2 separate regions of the Homo sapiens genome follow, and region 2 is linked to region 1. The links come from fine-mapping of genetic effects on gene expression. Tissue or cell type: putamen. Region 1 holds a variant in brackets; the other region holds the start of a gene. All regions are shown on one strand. Distances are from middle to middle.

Region 1 (8,106 bases):
AAATGGGTGCAGCCAGTGGGCGGGGCTGCTGAGCAAAAAGGCCAGTCCACCGATAATGCAGATTGTTTGCTATTGACGATTAGATTCAGGATCCCAAGTGCCTCCAATAGCTGTGCAGTGTGGCTAGAGGTGCATTGAATAAATACTTGGGGCTGAATTAATTGAGCAGAACTACCTTTTGAATACCTAAAGTTTGCCTGAAGGAAATCTTCAGGGCCTTGGAGAGTGCTTAATATGTATTAAATAAATGAGGCTTTCGGGGCCTGGGGAGCCCCTAAATTAAGGCAGTGACAAAGGGAATGGATTAGCTCTAAACATGGGTGTATACATAAATGTACACATTCCTTTGGAGTCCACATTTCTTTGGACTCAAATCCTACAGAATACAACCAGACACTGCTTTTCATTCAGAATTTTCTTTCTTGTGGAAACACTCCATTTGGCTCTTGTAATTTGGATTTGAAAGTAGTGAATGTCTGTGTCCATTTGGCACGAACAGAAGGCCTTAGAATTTGGACACAGGAAGAATAGCTAATGGATACAGGGCTTAATACCTTGGTGATGGGATGATCTGTGCAGCAAACCACCAGGACACACATTTACCTATGTAACAAAGCTGCACGTCCTGCACATGTACCCTTGAACTTAACATAAAAGTTAGAAAAAATAAAAAAGAAAGAAAACAGACATGTTTGTTCTTCAACTCTTTTGAATGGTTTATTGCATGGAAAATTGTTACTCACAGTATCATCCATTTACAGTGAGAGCTTCTATAAGTTGTCAACACCACTTAAAGACATCAATAAGTAGAGTCTTTGGACACTACTGATGGCTGGCACCTGACTTAATAGAGGGACTGGCACTCTGGAGGGAGGAGGAATGGAAGGGAAGCAACATGGGGAGTAAAATCTATGCATTTAGTCCAGTAAGTCCCACCCTTTTGTGAAGCTGTTTGACCTGATGTCATCTAATTAAAGCTACTCTTCCATACAAAGCATTGTGTGACATATATATTTAAAATTATGTTTAAAATTAACTAGATTTTTGGTTTGAAGTATTATTTGTAGAATTTTAGTATCTTTCTTGACTGAAATGATTGTGATACTGTAGGGTGGGAATCACTGATTAAGGGCCGGTGGTGTAGACTAGAAAAATATGGATTTTGCAGGCAGGAGGCCAGGCTCCCCTGTCAATTTCACCACTTGCTATCTGTGTGATCCTGTTTGGGAAAGCCATGTAACCTCTCTGAGCTTCTTTAAGCTTTAAATAGTTGAAATGTGTGGACACAATGTCCAACACACAGTAAGTGCGCTATAAATCCTTACTTTCATTCCTTCCCTTCTTTCAAATAGATAGACGCTCATAGATAATAATGATGCTGTCAGGAACCATGTGATAACGTATATTGGAGGGACAAAATAGTTTCCTTGCCTGAAATGACGGGTTTGCTCATCTCACACCTCGACTAACCTACTTACTGAGTCACTCCAAGGCTGTTTTTTTTTTTGAAGTAGCCTAATGCCAAACATATGCTGACAGTGATTTCAATGTGGAGCCTTGTACTAAATTAAATGAGAAGAAAACTCAAAGGCAGCTGGATGTACACTAGTATCTATACATATCTTGTCTCCTTGGAGGTTTTCTCATTTAATAGAGGTAGAAAATTTCAGGAGTTAAACTGCCCTTATAAAGAAATGAAGGTTTTAAAATTAGTAGACTTGGTGTTTGAGGATCCTGGATGAACTTTAATCTAGAGTTTTTTATACTCTCCAAATGGTATTATAAGGTTGGCTTCTCAGAGACTAAAGTAAGAGCTAAAAGGAATTAGAAAACCAGATGTTGGGGCTGATTCAATAGCAGTAAATCTTATTGCTGTTCCAGGGGCTCCATGAGGATTCTGCTACTGAAATTGAACAATATTTTTCCTAATTTGCAAAAAAATACATTAATACAGAGAGTGTGCTTATTTTCTAGGTTTGCATCCATGCTTTTTCTTAATTTTGGCACCTGCTATTTCTTGCCTTTTCCAGAGTCTTGTGTGAGCCGAGCATATACCATTCAGCACAGTATTATTTGAGTATAATGTTTCAATAGTTCATGATGAGTTGCAGAGCAACCATGACATTCAAGTTAGCGTCTCATAAAATCTGAGAATCATTGTCTGAGATTTGAGCCTAAAGATGCCTTAAAAAGCATCTTTAAGTATGAGTGACCTTAGCCAGGTCAACTATCCCTCTTGCCAGATCGAAAATATCAGAAAAATACTTTTTCTCTCCCTTATTCTGACAACAGGGAGCACTACTTATCATGCTTACTTAAAAACTGACAAACACATCTCCCATTGTAAAGACGCTAAGCATTTTAAGTGCTAACCTTGTTTTTAGCCCTCCTACTTCATATAGTCCAGGTTTGCCTCAGAATCTCAGAACATCACCATAGCTATGAGGTTAAGAGTGTAGTTTTGCAGTCAGGGTGACTTGGTTTTAAATCCTGCCCCATTCGCTGTGTAATCTTGGGCAAATTTGGGGCCTCAGTTTTATTATTTGCAAAATATAAATAGTAACACCTCACTAGTAAGTTTGTTGTGATGATAAATAAATTAATAAGCCAGAATTGCATACTCTCTTTGGAGAAGGGATCACCTCTGGTTTAAACATTGCAGTAACTCCAGTGCCCATAGCATACACTCAGTAAATATTACAAAAGAAAATTAATGGATAATGCATCTTAAGCAGTTGGCAACATGTCTGGCACATATTGGCCTCTCAATAAATAGTAAAGATGGCAATAATAATAATGGTAGTTGTTGTATCATTATCATTAAGTTACTACATCTTTTGAAATAAATTTTGAAAAACTACAAAGAATATTTTGCGGCTGGAAGACTGGATATGTTTAAAATGACATTTCCGAAGGCAGCCTCCTAAACTTCAATGCCCTTTTCATATCATCAGTGTAGCTTTGGACAAAACAGTCTCTGGCCATGTCTTATTTCACAAGGCCAAACTTTGAGAATAATCTGACTTCCAGTCTCCCTCTCTTGCAAGCTGTGTTTCCAGACTGTTGAGTGGCTCCTGGAAGCAGCAGGTGGTTCATGGATGCAGACATCAGGAATCAAAGCTCGGCTCTAAGAGGGGAGAGGATGGAAAGTTCTTTGAGTCCTTTTGGCTGAATAGGTGTCTTAATGAGATGATCACTCCAGGAAGCATTTCTATTTCCTTCCTTTAAATAATGAGAGTATCTTTGAGTGAATGTATTTACCTTCCTTCAGGCTTAGTTTCTTTGATCTCTGATGACTCACTTTGTCTCACAACAATGATCAGGGTCTTCATTATGCTGCCCAATTTGGTAGCAGAAGCCCATGAGAAGCAAAAATTTGGAAGCCACAATTTTCTCATTATCATGGGGATTAGGTTGCCTTGTCAACAATATATGCAGAAGAGAATAAATTTAAACTAGCAACTAAGATATATTTATCAAGACCTGGTCTATTAACTTGTTTAGCTTTGTTGTGCAAGCCATTCAAGTTTCTAATGTGGCAGGTGAACTTTTGGGTAGCTTATGTTGCTAATAGCCAAATGGCATATAATAATCAAAGCAATAAATGTGGGTATTATTAAGCACAAGCGCAATGGCCCGAAATAGAATTGCTGAGTGCTTATAAATTACTCTATTATTATTTGAAGGAAAGAACAATCCAAGTTGAAATATGGAAGCTACACACCACACAGTTCTTTCACTATTATTGTCCTGTATAAGGTGATCTCTGGGTTTTATTTACAATTCTCAGATAAGTTATTTTTTCTCCCCAGCTGCAGAACTCAGTCTTGAATTCCATTTTCATTTTAAACATCAATAGTTCATTGTATAAGAGCATTCTTCATGCTGCAAGTTCTTGGCATTTTCTATGAGGAATATAGCACAGTAACAATTCTTTATAGGGATAGGAGAAATAAGACATGACAGACTAAAGATAGGTGGTTAAGTTGTAACAAAACCCAGCATATAAAGCTTGGCAAAGATTTATACAGAGAAGCAAAACTACTGTTCATGCCAGAGAAATCAGTAAAGAGGAACTGAAAAAGAAGTGAAGAACGTATGCTTCAAAGCTATAATGAGACTTGGCTGCCTCAGGCAGTATCAGTAAGGAATAACATGCCCTAATTTTGTTGTCTTAGAAGCAAAACATTTCTTTTTCTGTTGATTATTCAGAATATGTGCCATTAGCCATATGTGTACATTTTAGTCAGCAATACAGCTGTAGCCCATATTTCATTAACATGTGTTCTGCTTCCTGCTCGAACACACAACACGCAGAAATGTGTCCCTGACCTTTTAATCTAGCTTGCTCTTTCTTCCTTCATTTCCCCATCGTTTATAATAGCAAGATCCCTGAACCCTCTCCTAGACCACCTCCCTCCTTTTTCTCTGTTGCTGGCATTGTAGGTGTCTCGTCAATTTGGTAGAAGATGTCTTGGAATAGAGCCTCTCAAAACCTGGAAATTATGTTGAGTCTGTTTGATCTGATTACCTTGGAGGCAGATGACAAACTTTCATCAGCTCTAGCATTTTGTAAATAATCTTTGGTAACCATCATGGGTCATCTTTGAGTAGATTACTTGG[G/A]ATCCATCTAGAGTCTCAGTGCCTGGAGATTTTAAAGAAAAAATCAGAGGGTACACGTTCCAGGATGGCTTGGGTCAGTTTGCTGAATGGAAGAAGGAAAAATACAGGTATACACCAATTTTGGGTCCATTGTGGTCTGACAATTTTGGGAATCTATGGTTGGATATATATGGACGTCAGCAAGTACAACTTATCTAACGAATGAGTTGATTTTCAAGTTGAGTCCTTGTGTAATGGCTTAGTGTTGAGCCAAAGAAATGCCAGACCTTTGAATCTGCATGTCTTCATGGGTAGGGCAAGACCTTGATGCTTAAAGCCCATGTATGGCATCACAGCTGTATGTGATCAAAGACTACTTGGTGGGGTCTGAAGGTAATACAAGCTCACAGAACCAAATGTTATTATGAACAAGCACAGTCAGGGAAGGCTTCCTGGAGGAAGTAGCATTTGCAATGAGATTTGAAGGAAGTAAAATGAAAACATTAAAAGTAGTTGAGTTGTTTCATTATTTTACATTTTAGTAATATATTTCTAAACGTTACTTCGGTTGCTAGATTCAACCAATTAATTCGAGTGCTATAAATAGAAAATGAATAAATTTTTCAATTATCTGTTTAGAAATGTACAAAGAGAATGGAGGTAGTTTTAAAGAGGCTTCTTTTAGGCAAACAACAACAACAAAAAAGATTTAAGCTAAAGAATATAGGAAACTACCTCATTCCAATAGGTGTTGAATGTCAAGTAGTCAGAAATTTTTTAAAAATTGGAATTATATACTGGAAAACTAGAGGAAGGCTGGAAAAGTCAGAGTCTTTAAGCCTTATTGGTTGAGGATGAGTTCTCGTGTCAAATTACATTTCTAAGAGAATAAGATTCTTGCGACTCAAGATGTGGTTCTGGGACCAGTAACATCAGCATAAACTGGGATTCTATTAAAAATACATAATCTGAGTACCCTCCCAGACCTACTGAATCAGATTCTGCATATTAACGAGACTCCTGGATCATTTGTACACACTTTAACATTTGAGAGGCAGCAGAATTCTCAGATGGACAGCCTGTTGTAATGCTGTGGTACCCAGCTGATAATCAGCAGAATCATCTAGGTGGTATTTGTTAAATTTAATTAAAACATTTTTTTAACAGTAACTCAGATCTAATGAGTCAGAAGTTGGGGGCTGTGGTAGGCAGAGGTTGTAGAAACTGTATTATATATAATATAGAGGTTTCTACATTTCAAAGAGTTTCACAGGCAATTCTGGTAATCCAGGTTTGGATGCTGCTGATGTATGAGACTAGAGTAGTGATTCATAACTCTAACTGCTCTCTAGAATCATTTGTGATGTTTAAAAAAATTATAATGCTAGGTTCAGTCCTCCAGAGATACTGATTTAATTAGCCTTGGGTGGAATTTACACATGTGTTTTTTTTTTAAAGCAGACTTACTTAGATATAATTTATATACCACAAAGTTCATCCATACAGCAACTTTTTTTAAAAAAGGTTTCAGGATAATTCTGATGTGCAGTCAAGCCTGAGAACCCCTGGAGAAAGACTAGCAGGAGGCTCTTATATACTCCCATTGGGAAACAAAGAGATCTGATTTTCAGTAGTGTCAATGAATGAAGTCTGTACGGATGTGTGAGGCTAAGATGTAGAGAGAAATTCAGAGAATTCTCTGAGGTTGAATTAACAGATTTTAAAAATTAATTTTGCATGGGTAGAGAACTAATTCAATAGTCTAGGATTATGTCAGTTTCATTTGACCGACTAGATGGATAGTGACACCTGTGGGCTCACTTCCCTCTTTCCTGTGTAGGGCTCATTTTTATTCAGAGATTAGGGAAATGGCAAGAGGCATAAAATATTTAGACTTTCAGATTATTTATGAAATTCAACATAGCCAAATTCAGCAGGAGCAACAATAGGTATACTACACCCAAGAAACTCCTGAATATCGGAATTTAGTACCTTTTAAATCTGCAATTAAAGACAATCTGTGTTGTGATCTATCCCTTGTTTGTTGCACAGACCCTTCTTCATACCTCCATGTATCTTCCTTAAAGGTGGGTTGATAAGAAGTACATATATTGCTACACTCTGAATACTCTTTATTTACACATGCCTGTTTTTACTATAATATCACAAGGAAGAGGCAGGAGCTTCATGCTTGAGGTAACCATGAGTGGTTCATTCTCAGATCAGTCTTTGTTTGTTTGTTTGTTTTTTGAGACAGGGTCTCACTCTGTCACCCAGGCTGGAGTGCAGTGATACACTACAATGGTACAATAATGTCTCACTACTGCCTTGAACTCCTGGGCTCAAGTGATTCTCCCACCTCAGCCTGGATAATTTTTAATTGTTTTCTTGCAGAGACATGGGGTTCCATTATGTTTGCTTAGGCTTGTCTCAAACACCTATGCTCAAGTGATCCTCCTAAAGTGCTGGGATTACAGGCGTGAGCCACCAGACCTGGCCTAAGATCAGTCTTTGACAAGATCTCAGCTCTACAGTGTTTTCAACTCACTTTACTCTTGAATTCATAAGAATGTAAATTTCCAGCAATTTTCTCCTTTTATTTTTCTATAATCGGTCATGGGGTACAGAGTTCAGAAGAAGTATAGTTATTGAGCATGGTCAGGAGATAAACCTGGTCTTAGAACAGTAGGAATAATTGTTGGAATCTATTAGAACCTCTAACTATGAATCTCTTGGAATTTTATTGATTCTGAGCAAATTTTTATAAACACATACAAACACATACATAACTGGACATTTTAACTGTTAACTAAGGATGACTAAAACAGTTTTCCAGAGTCTGAGGGAAGTTTTATTGAGTTGGATTGAAAAACAGCTGTGGAAACGGTCTTTTATTCTCTGTATGTGATTGGCACAGTTAATAGAAAAGGATTGGAAGCAGGCTCAACGCCTTCAGTGTTTAGGATGAATGAGATTCCACATCAACCAGAAATGGGGCTGACCCTGTGTAACACGGATACCACATTCTAGGTGGATGGAGTCAGGGTTTCCCCTCAGTTCCTCTTCATTGGCCCCTCACTTTCATCCACTAGAGCCTGTAACTGTAAACAAGGTTTGGGACGTTGTTGGGATCTGTGGTTATTTCACACACAGTGGTGGAGGCAAGGCTGATGGAGAAAGTGACCTGGAAATAGTACATGTGTTAGGAATTATGGCTTTTCATTGGCTGAATTTGGTTAAAGAAGGAAGTTAAACTCTCTCAGTTTCCTAGGACAAAAATCCTTCTCAGACTCACAGAGCCAGGCAGTGGAGGTAAGAGAATACGTTATCTCTAGCCAGCGGAGCTGTATTTGATGAGTGAGCAAAGGTTTATTCATGTTGCTATAATTTGGATGCTTGTGCCCTGAAAACTCATGTTGAAATTTGATCCCCAGTGTTGGAGGTAGGGCCTAATTGGAGGTGTTTGGGTAAAGGGGGCAGATAGCGCATGAATGCCTTGGTGCT
Region 2 (8,101 bases), 710 kb before region 1:
AGACAATGAAGAGTATGAGCAAGAGCACAGCCTTTGGGTCATCTTGCAGGGTCTGAGAGTAAGGCCGACGTGAAGGGAAATAGAGCCATGGTTGGCAGAGGGACTGGGTCCTGGCCCCATTGGCTGACTGGCTGATTCTGGTCATGCCAAGACTATTATATACACTGATTCTTTAGTTGCATGAGCCAGGACATTTCCTTTTTTTTTTTCCTCAAAACATTTTGAGTTTGGGGCTTCAAACACGTGAAACAGAGTCTTAATGAAGGTATAACTAAAAATATAGCTCTGAAGTGAAGATGCATGGATCCCTGATCCTGAGGACTCTAAATCTGACCTAAATACAGTTCCAGTCTCCCTAAGGCCCCATCCTACAGCAGATCCTGTTTTGAGATTTCTCTGAGATTCTGTCTCTCTTATACATGATTTATAGCCTTACAATATTACAATATTCACCATCTTTACTCGCCATGAGTCAGTTTGTTCCTTGGAGCAAAGCGAATGTAATGAAACAGTTCCCATCTTACAGATAGGGAAATGGAGGCCAAGATATATGAAGAGACTTCATCAAAGGCAAACCTGAACGTGGCAGGCAGGTCTCTGGCCAAGGATCTTTCCATGCCAGCTCCGTTTCTTTATGTCCCCTTTCCCTCCTTCCCTATGCTTTCCCCTTCCCCTTTGCCCTGAATTTTTGTGGTCCGGTTGCTCTAGGAGCCTAGGTCTTGTCACATTATCTCAGCACTTGGATGACATGGTTCCAGCTGTCAGAGAAGGAAAGGCATGGACTTGTTTTTCTCTGAGTTTCCTTCTATTTCTGTATGCTCATTTGGCCTTCAGCATGTGCCACCCTGTGAAAGTTTGGGGGATGTTTTATAATGTTGCTTAACTTTATTTAGCTTCCCAAGTATTTATGACTTGCCTTCAAGATGAGAGTGAATTTAGCTGGTGTCCCTGATTCACCTTGGAAAAATCTATTGTGCCTAGCACAGTATCTGGCTTGCATTAGATAATCAGTAAATATCCATTGACAAGATTGACTAAAAGAATCTTACATTAGGCAAAATGCTGGCTAAGCTGCTGTAACAAAATTACAGTGGCTCCAACATGACAGAAGTTGATTTTTCTCTCACTCCCCAGAGGTGTGCCGGCAGTCCAGGGTGGGCAGGCGGCTCTGTTCTATGAAGTCATCCAAGGGCTCCTTGCCCTGCTATCCTCTAGAGAGTGTCTTTCTCCTCATGGTCAGAGCTGGTTTACCAGTACATTCACATTCTGGCCTAAGCAAAGGGGGAAAGGGAAAGTGAAGGGAAAGGGAAAGTGAAAGGAAAGAAGGTAACTTCCTTATAAAGATGTGATTCAAATGTGCACATATTACCTCTGCTTGCTTCTCGTTGGCTAAATCACTGTCACGTGCTCGTGCTAGCTTGCAAGTGTGTTGTGGGAAGTCAGGGACCCCGAATGGAGGGACTGCCTGGAGCTCCGGCAGAGGAACATAAATTGTGAAGATTTCATGGACACTTATCGGTTCCCAAATAATACTTTTATAATTTCTTATGCCTGTCTTTACTTTAATCTCTTAATCCTGTTATCTTCGTAAGCTGAGGATATACGTCACCTCAGGACCACTATGATAACTGTATTAACTGTACAAATTGATTGTAAAACGTGTGTTTGAACAATATGAAATCAGTGCACCTTGAAAAAGAACAGAATAACAGCAATTTTTAGGGGACAAGGGAAGACAACCAAAAGGTCTGATTGCCTGCAGGGTCATTATATTATATATATATATATATATATATATATATATATATATATATATATACACACACACACACACATCTTATATATATATACACATTTTATATATATATATACACATTTTATATATATACACACATTATATATACACACACATTATATATATACACATTATATATACACATTATATATACACACATTATATATATACACATTTTATATATATATACACATTATATATATATATAAAACATTATATGTGTGTGTGTGTGTGTGTATATATATGTCCAAGAGTAATGAAAACATGTTACTGCAGAAAGACTGGTCCAATAATGTTCATAGGAGCCTTATTCATAATTAGCCAAAAGGTAGAAACAAACCAAATGTCCATCAACAGGAGAATATTTAAACATGTTGTGGGATATTCATACTGGAATACTGGAAGGCTACTCAGCAATAAAAAGGAATGAATTCCTGATACATGAAACAACCAGGGCTGATTTACTCATTTGGCACAGTAGGCACAGTTCTGGGGCCTGTGAAAATAAACTTTTAGGTGGAAGAAAATGTTTTAGGTGAAAGAAATTGTCATATTCATCTTTATAGCAACATAGTCATAAGACATAATTTTTGATTATATAAATAGTTTGTCATATTCATCTTTATAGCAACATAGTCATAAGACATAATTTTTGATTATATAGTGTGTGTACATAAAATGAAGGGGCTCATGAAGTGCTTAGGGCCCATAGAAATCATAATGCAGGCCTACAAACAAGAATAAATACTAAAATATGTGTTAAGCCAAAAACCTGGGACACAAAAGAGTACATGCTGTACTCTTAAATAGAATTCTACAACAGGCAAAACTAATCTATGTTGATAGTGACCAGAAAGTGATTACCTCTGGAGTGGGGAGAGATTGCAAGAAGGGAATGAAGGCACTTTCAGGGATGGCAGACATGCTCTATATCTTGTTTTTGGTGGTGGTTATTTAGGTGTATATACAATCTCCTAAAATCATGGAACAGAACCTTTAGGTTCTGTACATTTTATTGTATATTAATTATGCCACAATTTTAAACAAAGGGGAAGAATAGACAGGGTACAATGAATAATTTCTGTGACAGATTTGATAAATGAATTACTAGGACAGTGTTTGCTGACAAGGTTTAACATTGCATTCTTGTAGAAAACCTTTAGGAACTCAAAGGGAAGAGTCCAGGCACTGTGACAGGCCAGTGGGGAATGAACCACACTGCTCTATATTAATCAAGCTTTTTTATTGCAAACAACAGAATATATCTGGTAAGCTTATACAGCACAGGAATTTATCAGAAGAATAACAGGAAGTACTGTATTCACAACAGTCTCTGAAAACAGGCAGGAATTTAAGACAAGATCAGACCATCAGATGGCTGGTGGATCATATGATGCCATAATCCTATACCCTTGCCCCAACCAACCCACATATATCTCAGGCCTTCACTGCATCTTTTCATTACTCCTCCAAAACTGAAAACCTATGCGTGAGCCTCTGGCTTGCTGAGCCTAGGCAAAGCCTACATATAATAACTCCCATGGAGATGGAAGAGGCAATGTGTTTCATTGGCTTCTAGATGGGAGGTGGGGCCCCCAAATGACCAATGTTCCCAACAAAACCTGAACAATCTGAAATTATTCAGATTTCTGCTTGTCATTCTAACCTCTGTTCAGGACTTCCAAGATCCAGGACAGGCCCAGTGTAGATACCTGTGTCCCAAACCACTGATCTGGGCTAGGAAGACTGAATCACAGGTGTGGAAGGTCACCCGGGTTCAACCATCTAGGTGATGAATTAGGCCAGGACCTGGGCAGGTAGACCATTTATTCTGGGGAGATATGATGCGAGCTTGAATTACATGGGAGAAATATTTGTAAGGCAGATGGGATAACAGGACTTGATAAGTCTGTAGTGTGGAAAGGCTAGAAAAGAAAGGAATCAAAGGAATCCTGATTTCTGACTTGACAGGGTAGAAGGAGGTGTGTGTGTGTGTGCGTGTGTGTGTGTATGTTTATGTAGGGACAGTGACACCCAAGAGAGGCTAGGAATAGGTTTGTTTTATTCCTGTTTGGGGTGGTTGGGTAGGCAGGGTTAAGTTTTTGACTTGGTGAATTTGAGATGATGGCCAATATACAATTGACATTCCAGCTGGGGGGACCATTGAAGATCAAGTCTGGCAAGTCTACTAGCTGGCGCCTGGGTGAGCTGAGCCCAGCAGGTGAGGGAAAACGCGGGAAGAGGGTCTTGCAGATTCCAAACTTAGGAAGGGTCGCGGCTCCGCGCACGTGCTCTCGGGGTCACCTTCCCCGCGCCTGTGAGGGTGCCAGGAGTTCGTCTCCAGGTCCCGCCCCTGTGGGCGGGGCGAGGCAGCGTCGCCGCGAGGCCACCCGGAAGACCAAGCCGGGTAGGCGCTGTCTCCGTCGCCTCCAACCCCCCCGGTCCGACCAGGGAAGGTGGGATGCTCTGATGGCCGGGCCTGCGGCGCTGAGCGCGGCGGCGGCGGCTGCTCTGGCGGCCGCCCTGCTCCTGCTGCGTCGTGAGGACCCGGGGCCGGGGGCTGGCCCCAGGTAACCCCTCCGCGTATGGGACCGAGCTGGGCCAGGTCTCCTGGCCGGGCCGGGGATACCGTGGGGTATGCCCAGTGATGCCAGCAGCTTGTGGCACCTGGGCGCACCCTCCAGCTCGGGCCCCTTCCGATGGGTCTGCTGGCTCAGGTGCGGGCGATGGCCGGGGAGCCGCGCCCCGCACGTGACTCAGCACTTTCCCCAGAGCCCGGACTGCGGAGAACAATATCCTCCTCCCTAACAGATAAACAGCCCTTGTTCCTCGGGATAAGGACTGGCAGTCCCCTGACACCCTAAGACCGGCATCTGTCGATGTTATTTCCCCAGCATGGCCGAAACAGAAGCCCTGTCGAAGCTTCGGGAAGACTTCAGGATGCAGAATAAATCCGTCTTTATTTTGGGCGCCAGCGGAGAAACCGGCAGAGTGCTCTTAAAGGAAATCCTGGAGCAGGGCCTGTTTTCCAAAGTCACGCTCATTGGCCGGAGGAAGCTCACCTTCGACGAGGAAGCTTATAAAAATGTGGTGGGTATTTCAGCTGGGACTCAAATGGACCCCCAGGATTCTGCGAGGTGAACATATTTCATGCCTAAAGGCTGAATACTGCCCTGCCAGTGGTGGGGGTAGTGAGAGGCCATCAAAACTTGGCCAAGATTGGTCTGTGAGAGTCCCTCCCAGAAGTCTGACTCCTGGATTGTAGCCCAGGTGTGCCTCCCTCCCGCTCATTGTGTGGTCTTGGGCAAAGCCCTTCTCTCCATCTGCAACCCTATAAAGCTGGGTCTGGGTTGTAATGGGGGTGGGGGCTGGTGAGACAGAAGAGCACTGTTTTCAGGGTCATACAAGCTGTATTCTAGAGGCAGCCCTGGTGACCTTGAGAATTTTCTCAGCCACTTTGCTGATTTTGTCAACCTGCGCACTTCACACTAATATTGTCAGGGATTCTGAAACTGCTTTGCAGAGTGAGATAGGTCTATGGCAGTGAAAGGTGGGATTATTCACTTACAAGAATTTGCCCTGCCTGACTTCCCAGGCTTGTGTCTGTAAATCGGATATTCCCTTCACTCTAAGTTAAAGGTTTTTTTTTTTTTTTTTCTGAGACGGAGTCTCACTCTGTCCCCCAGGCTGGAGTGCAGTGGCACGATCTCGGCTCAGTGCAACCTCTGCCTTTCAGGTTCAAGCGATTCTTCTGCCTCAGCCTCCCGAGTAACTGGAACTACAGGCGTGCGTCACCACTCCTGGCTAACTTTTGTATTTTTAGTAGAGACGAGACAAGGTTTCACCATGTTGGCCAGGCTGGTCTCGAACTCTTGACCTCAGATGATGCTCCCGCTTCAGCCTCCCAAAGTGCTGCGATTACAGGCGTGAGCCACCGCGCCCAGCCTAAGTTACACTTTTATGATTATAGGAATGATATACCAGACTTCTGTCTTGTCATGACCCCCTAAATATCAGAAGCCTGAGTTTCTTGGAGATTCTGTTCTTTATTTAAAGGGAATTATCTGTGAACTGCAACAAATTAACATAGTGTGATCTCAAGACACCACAGCTACAGAATTTGGCCCCACAGGTTTCATAGAAAGAACATTTCAAATAACAAGCCATCTTGCAAATAAATGTTCTTGATTCTCGCAGGTCTGTGTTCAGGTCATGGTGTGAATGCCTTTGGTCCATCAAGTCTTGTTTATTTAAAACAGACATCTTTCCTCAGGCTGAGGCAGATGTGTTCTCACCGGTTTCATGGGCTGTGTCAGATATTCATGGTAATTAGAAGCTGAAACTGAAGGCTGGGCGTGGTGGCTCATGCCTGTAATCCCAGAGCTTTGGGAGTCCGAGGCAGGGGATCTCTTGAGGTCAAGAGTTCCAGACCAGCCTGGCCAACATGGTGAAACCCTGTCTCTACTAAAAATACAGAAATTAGCTGGGCGTGGTGGTGCACGCCTGTAATCTCAGCTACTCAGGAGGCGGAGGTGCGAGAATCACTTGAACCCAGGAGATGGAGGTTGCAGTGAGCAGAAATTGTGCCACTGCACTCCAGCCTGGGTGACAGAGCGAGACTCTGTCTCAAAAAAAAAAAAAAAAAAAGAAAAGAAACAAATTGAAATCTGTGTTTTGAGTGTCGAGTTTTGGTGGCACATCTGTTTGACTAGGTACTTTGTGAAACCCTATTTTTCTTTTTCTTTTCTTTTCTTTTCTTTTTTTTTTTTTTTTTTTTGAGATGGAGTCTCACTCTGTCGCCCAGTCTGGAGTGCAGTGGTGCGATCTCAGCTCACTGCAAGCTCCGCTTCCTGGGTTCACGCCATTCTCCTGCCTCAGCCTCCCGAGTAGCTGCAACTACAGGTGCCTACCACCACAACCGGCTAATTTTTTTTTTGCATTTTTAGTAGAGACGGGGTTTCACCATGTTAGCCAGGATGGTCTCGATCTCCTGACCTCGTGATCCACCCACCTCAGCCTCCCAAAGTGCTGGGATTAACAGTGAAACCCTATTTTTCTTTAGTGTCATAGGCAGTGCCAGAAAAATTCTTTTCAGAGTTGACAGTAAGGATGGAAACCAACATTTTATCGGAGTTCTTGGATGATAGGAATTTATCATGCTTTCTTTTTTAAGTTATACAGCAAACTGATAAGGTTAGATGGAGGTTCGTAAACTTCTGTGTGCATGAGAATTAAGGTGGGTGCTTGTTAAAAGTGCAGATTCTGATTCAGAACTATTGGTGTGGGATGTAGGAATATGCCTTTTTATTAAGCACTCCCTGACTAATTATAATGCAAATGGTTCATGGATTGGACTGAAGGAAAGATTATCACCCCCATTTTACAGCTGAAAAAAAAAAGCTGTAGTGTATGATGAATAATTTGCCCGTAACTACATGCCTAGTGAGTGTAGCAAGCCCAAGATTTGCAGCTAGGTCTTCTTTAAGATGCCAAACGCCATCTCTTGCCCTCACATCATACCTCAGTGGTCTCCTTCCTGGTTAGCTACACACAGGTCTTTTATTTTTCCAGAGAGAGATTATAATCGAACCTGACTTCAGAAATCTGGATCACCCCTAGTCCAGTTATATAGACTGTGGACATATGTGTGTGTTGTTGATTTTCAACTGAGGTTCATTGCTTTTTGGTTGGAGAAAAGGAATTTGTAAAATTTGATGTTAAGTGGACAGGCCTGTCAGTAATGTTCTGTAACTTAGTCTTTAAATCTAGAGGGGGTTTTTGGTCTGTTGTTTAAATAACATGAAACTACATACAACTGTGTCCTTGCCTAGAATCAAGAAGTGGTGGACTTTGAAAAGTTGGATGACTACGCCTCTGCCTTTCAAGGTCATGATGTTGGATTCTGTTGCCTGGGTACCACCAGAGGGAAAGCTGGGGCGGTAAGGAAGGCATATGCTCTTTTCCCTTTTTGCTGGCCAGTAATATCAAGGATTCTTTTCTTGCTCACTCTTTTTCTTTGTGCCTGTTGCAATGCTTAAATGTGAATAAGCCTTTATTGTTTAAGATTCTATATGCTGCACTAACCTTTGGTATCCTTTTAATAGTACTGATAAGTTCGTCTTTCAAAGTAATCCTTGAGTTCAGGCCCCAGTGCTGGAGACGTCGTAAATATTTACATGATTTTGCCTATTGTGATTATCGCTATCACTACATCCCCTGACTAAGGGAAACCATGATGTCTGAGTAAAACTAATTGGTTTATGCTGTTAACAATCAGCTGTTTTTCCCCTTAATAAATGTTTGAAA

Evidence for each region. PIP is the estimated chance that this variant, and not a neighbour inherited with it, causes the effect.
Region 2: it holds the start of HTATIP2, and the variant in region 1 is fine-mapped to the expression of HTATIP2 in putamen (GTEx, PIP above 0.99).

The regions. Positions count from the first base shown.
Region 1 is chr11:21,068,632-21,076,737 of GRCh38, forward strand. The region is part of intron 12 of NELL1 (neural EGFL like 1); the gene reads left to right. Among named protein-coding and RNA genes, the nearest start is that of NELL1-AS1, 190 kb to the right of the region's middle. The variant G/A (reference allele first, on the strand shown) is at 4,624.
Region 2 is chr11:20,359,548-20,367,648 of GRCh38, forward strand. It overlaps HTATIP2 (HIV-1 Tat interactive protein 2), which reads left to right and starts at 4,167. Exons shown (of 5, transcript NM_001098522.2): 1 at 4,167-4,885; 2 at 7,627-7,734. The coding sequence starts at 4,691. RefSeq lists enhancers at 1,186-1,405, 7,700-8,101 and silencers at 4,168-4,587, 4,374-4,516.